Linked DNA regions of Homo sapiens: region 2 is linked to region 1. A link means that fine-mapping ties the variant in region 1 to the expression of a gene that starts in the linked region. Tissue or cell type: whole blood. Region 1 holds a variant in brackets; the other region holds the start of a gene. All regions are shown on one strand. Distances are between the middles of the regions.

Region 1 (2,653 bases):
CCCCCATAGTTATCCTGTCTGAATAGTTAACTGAGCACTGCTCACTTTTAGATTCCTTAAGAGTTGTTAAAAAATAAGTCTTTGTACTCTATCATGGCATGCATGAACTCTCATAGCTTGAAATGACTGCATGAAAATGTACATTTTATAATTTCTTATACTATTTACATAGGTATAAGTATACACAGAAAGTGTGTTTAAATGTTTAACAGCCAAAAACAAAAACCAAAAAAAAGTCACTCTGCTGTAACAGAACACTGTTCTGCATATGGCTAGCTGTACATTGGCAGAACATAGCGATTTTAAGGATGAATTAGTGTTGTAATCTCTTTGGGATTTCCTTTATATTTGCGGTGGTTTATGACTGACATTTCATGTAACTATAGCTTTCTGTTTGGATTTAATAAAAGATTCATTTCTGTGGCAAGATACACATTTGCACTCCAGTGTTGAATAAAAGCTACTGTTCTGCAAGGGTATAAAATGCTGATTTATAACAACACGTTCCAATAACAGTGATCTAATTCTTTCAAACTATTTCTTCCCAGGTCCCAGGAACAGCATGGCTCCAGCAAAGGATGACTCTTCTCTTCCAGAATATTCAGCCTTTAACACATCTGTCCATGCTGCAATTAGACATGGAAATTGGAAACTCCTCACGGGCTACCCAGGTAGAGTCCTTAGCTTAGCAAACTTCCCTTCCCGTGGTAGACAAAGCAGGGCTGTGTCCTCAGGGCAGTATCTCCAGTCTATCTGCCCTCCTGGGATTTGATTCCCACGGCCATTTCTCTGGAAAGAGAGGACATTATCACTCTTGTTCTAACCGTTTCCCACCTCTTCCTCTGTGGCTCCTCCTCAAGGCCCCTAAGCCCTACCACTTACCTCACTTTGCTCAGATACCTGAAATCTTAATTTGTCTTTCTAATCTTTCATGATCCCTCCTGATATATGTCCTAGAAAGACAACTATTTATTCAGGGTTTTCTTTTCCCAATTCTAAGACTCCGCCTGTTCCCAATTACACAGCTTCCATCATTGTCATGGTGCAAGTAAGCTTTCCCAGTGGATCATCAAGGAGAAGCTTACCGAAGTAACAAATGCCTTTTGCAAAACATATCTCTGGGGCTGCTGAATGAGGAGATAGGAAGAAATGGTTTAACCTACTCGTCCTAACCAAAAAAAAAAAAAAAAAAAAAAAAAGAGAGAGAGAGAGAAAGACAGAGAGAATTAACTGTAGCAGGGGTGAAAGGAAGAAATGTCACTCTTATGCTTCATGGAAAATACGGATTTTAAATATATGTGGCTATCAAGCACAGCACATTTAGCTAACAAAGAGAGTCTCTGAGAGCTACACCCTCAACCAGTGGTATAGCTGGGGAAGGAGGTTGCTCCTCTGATTATATTCTCTAAGAGTGATATCTTTTCAATACTTTTAAAATATGTGGGATGATGGTTAAGGCTGTGATGTAATTAATCAATGTTTACAATGAGAACATTTTTGGCGTTTGCAATATGACAAGTCTTTTTTGACTGGGATTGTCCCATGTATTGCAAGACTTTAGCATCACTAGCTCATGCCCACTAAATGCCAGGAGCACCCCTATGCCCTAGTCCTTGTGACAAGGACATACACACATGCACACA[C/T]GTTTCTGGGTGTCCTTGCTTGTGAAGCAGTGAGACATGTCTAGTTAAAGCACCAGAAGTCAAGTCTGAGAAGCATCTAGAGACAGCATCTAGGGCCGCATCTTTTTATGTTTCCACACCCACAACCCAGTGCAGCCTTGGCCTCAGACTCCTTCCCTGAAATTAGAACCTGCCTCTGTGCTTCTCCCTCAGTAAACTGTTTTGTTTTCTTTGCTAGGCTGTGGTTACTGGTTCCCTCCACCGTCTCAATACAATGTTTCTGAGATACCCTCATCAGACCCACCAACCAAGACCCTCTGGCTCTTTGATATTGATCGGGACCCTGAAGAAAGACATGACCTGTCCAGAGAATATCCTCACATCGTCACAAAGCTCCTGTCCCGCCTACAGTTCTACCATAAACACTCAGTCCCCGTGTACTTCCCTGCACAGGACCCCCGCTGTGATCCCAAGGCCACTGGGGTGTGGGGCCCTTGGATGTAGGATTTCAGGGAGGCTAGAAAACCTTTCAATTGGAAGTTGGACCTCAGGCCTTTTCTCACGACTCTTGTCTCATTTGTTATCCCAACCTGGGTTCACTTGGCCCTTCTCTTGCTCTTAAACCACACCGAGGTGTCTAATTTCAACCCCTAATGCATTTAAGAAGCTGATAAAATCTGCAACACTCCTGCTGTTGGCTGGAGCATGTGTCTAGAGGTGGGGGTGGCTGGGTTTATCCCCCTTTCCTAAGCCTTGGGACAGCTGGGAACTTAACTTGAAATAGGAAGTTCTCACTGAATCCTGGAGGCTGGAACAGCTGGCTCTTTTAGACTCACAAGTCAGACGTTCGATTCCCCTCTGCCAATAGCCAGTTTTATTGGAGTGAATCACATTTCTTACGCAAATGAAGGGAGCAGACAGTGATTAATGGTTCTGTTGGCCAAGGCTTCTCCCTGTCGGTGAAGGATCATGTTCAGGCACTCCAAGTGAACCACCCCTCTTGGTTCACCCCTTACTCACTTATCTCATCA
Region 2 (2,683 bases), 200 kb before region 1:
GTATGTAAGAGGCAAACATTTCATGTGTTAAAGGATTCTTGGGGAAAAAAAGGTAAAATCATGACCCTCATACAAATATAAAAGTGAATACATGATTTTATTTAACTCATTAATAAGGAAATTGGTAAGGTGTTAAAACCAATTCAAAGGACAATCCAAAGAACAGATCAGGAATACTAAAATAAATATGCAAGCGGAGGTGAAACTGTTTTCCTTGGTAGTGGTGGAGGGGAAGGATTGCTACTCCGCTGGATAAAGTTCATTTGTGTATATATAAATAAGAATTATTTTCCATTGTTATTTATCTATAACTTATAAAGTTGTAAACAACTTCCACGGAATCAGACTCAACCTGGAAGGGTATGGTCTCTAGGCAATGCAAAAATTTTCCCCTACACCTGTTAACAACTATAATATCTCCAGACAGAGTAGACAGAAAGTCTGGATGGCAACGGGAATCTACTGGTCATACGGCTAACTTCCTAATTCAATAAGCACGTGACTAAAGGATTTTTTCCTTCCACTCAGATATTTCAGGCTAACTAGATACTGTGTGCTTCTTAGTGTCACTGCTTAGTGGGGGAGCCAGCTCTGAGTGGGGTCATATCCGGACAAGCGAATGAGCTATTTATTCAATGACCACGCAACACTCCAAATCCTCCCAGGGCAACTTGAAAGTAACCGCACCTTCCAAAGGGCACCGTGCAATCAGACTGTGTGTTTGGCCTCCTGTTTGCTAGTGGGGAGGAAGCGGCTTCATGGGTGTACACTACGCATAAATGAATGTGAAAGGCTATTTAGACCTCTGCCTTTTCACCGTCCTCCCACCTGCCACAGGCTGGGCTCTTGTGCTAGAAATGACTTGCTAGCTAGACATCATGGTTCAGGATCTGAGTCAGAGGTTTAACCATTTATAAGCTTTTTTCTTATGAAAAATTGGCACTAATTATAATGTCTAACTGTCAGAGTTGTTGCAGGCTTTACAGGAGACGCGGGCTGTGAAGATGCTTTGTAAATTGTGAAGCGTTATTAAAGAACACATCTTTTTTTTTTAGGAAACCACAGTGCAAATTTAATTGCCGGGGAAGATAACGGGCCTTGGTGCCCTCCAAGCGTCAGCTGAGTTTCCAAGAAGCCGGGCAGCGGGCGCCCGCGGGTTCGTCTCTGGCTCCTCCTCCGCCACAGCAGCCGGGGGCCCGGGTCGGAGGCGGCGGGGGCCGAGCGCCCGGCCTCGCAAGCCCACGGCCCGCTGGGGGTGCCGTCCCGCGCCGGGGCGGAGCAGGCCCCGGCAGCCCAGTTCCTCATTCTATCAGCGGTACAAGGGGCTGGTGGCGCCACAGGCGCTGGGACCGCGGGCGGACAAGGATGGGTCCGCGCGGCGCGGCGAGCTTGCCCCGAGGCCCCGGACCTCGGCGGCTGCTCCTCCCCGTCGTCCTCCCGCTGCTGCTGCTGCTGTTGTTGGCGCCGCCGGGCTCGGGCGCCGGGGCCAGCCGGCCGCCCCACCTGGTCTTCTTGCTGGCAGACGACCTAGGCTGGAACGACGTCGGCTTCCACGGCTCCCGCATCCGCACGCCGCACCTGGACGCGCTGGCGGCCGGCGGGGTGCTCCTGGACAACTACTACACGCAGCCGCTGTGCACGCCGTCGCGGAGCCAGCTGCTCACTGGCCGCTACCAGGTACGCGGCGCCCCCGCCGCCCGCGCCGCCCCCGCCCCGCCTTTCGCCGGCGCCCTGCCGCTCCTACCCGGCCCTTGAGGCCGCGGGCGCTGGCAGGCGGGGCTCGGACCGCCGACCCAGTTATGGGTCCCGGCGGCTTCTCGCCCCAACCTCGCTCTTCCAGGCCGGCAGCCCGCCGCGGCCTCTGCGCATGCCCGGCTCTGGCGCCCCGCGGACCCGCGCCCCGGCCGCCGGGTTGGGCGGGTGGCTTTGTCTTTCGTTTTCTGAAGCTCCGGGCGAAGGGGTTTATGGGAATGCCGGGTGCTGGGCGCCGCGGCCGGCAGGCGGAGCGGTCCTGAGGTGGGAGGCTGGGGAGGGCGTGGGCTGGGAGCAAAGACGAGGGGAGAGGTAAAATGAAGGGGTGCTCGCCGTGGGTGCGACCCTGGCCCGTGGGAACCCAGCGGTGATAGGTTAGGAGTGTCCCACCAAAGATTATTTTTTTCCAGGTTCTCAACACCCCTGGAATGAAACCTGATGCTAGGTTGATTTTTCTTAGGCTGCTGACATTCCTTTCACATGTAACCTTGTATTGAACTCTTCTGAGCATCTTCATTATCGCTTTAAAAGCTTCCCTTTAGGAACGGCTCCACAGTTAACGAAGGAAATATAAATGTAGAGCGTGCATAGATGTTAGATGGCTAAGAATATCAAGAACATTTGCATAGCACTTTGTTGTTTTTAAAGTGAATTATTGAAACAGTGCATGAGGTAGTTGTTTTTACCCCGTTTTACAGACGAGGCAGGAAGCCTGTAAAGGCTCGTTGGCATAAGAATCGCACAGCTAGAAAGTGGTCAAGGCAGTGTCCGTTGTGCTTTTCCTGCATCCACTGGTCGTCCCGGGCTTATGAAATTGGCCTTTTTTCCCCTCAATCTGAATACGATTGTCATATTTCTAAGACCCTGAAGTTATTATGACCATATTAAATACAGTAAATGGGAACTGTTGGATACCACCTGCATGCCTTCA

Evidence for each region. PIP is the estimated chance that this variant, and not a neighbour inherited with it, causes the effect.
Region 2: ARSB starts here. The variant in region 1 is fine-mapped to the expression of ARSB in whole blood (TOPMed, PIP 0.94).

The regions. Positions count from the first base shown.
Region 1 is chr5:78,779,870-78,782,522 of GRCh38, reverse strand. ARSB (arylsulfatase B) reads left to right here. Exons shown (of 8, transcript NM_000046.5): 7 at 549-671; 8 at 1,861-2,653. The coding sequence ends at 2,126. Among named protein-coding and RNA genes, the nearest start is that of LHFPL2, 130 kb to the right of the region's middle. The variant C/T (reference allele first, on the strand shown) is at 1,644.
Region 2 is chr5:78,983,931-78,986,613 of GRCh38, reverse strand. It overlaps ARSB (arylsulfatase B), which reads left to right and starts at 1,304. Exons shown (of 8, transcript NM_000046.5): 1 at 1,304-1,677. The coding sequence starts at 1,366. RefSeq lists a silencer at 1,122-1,981.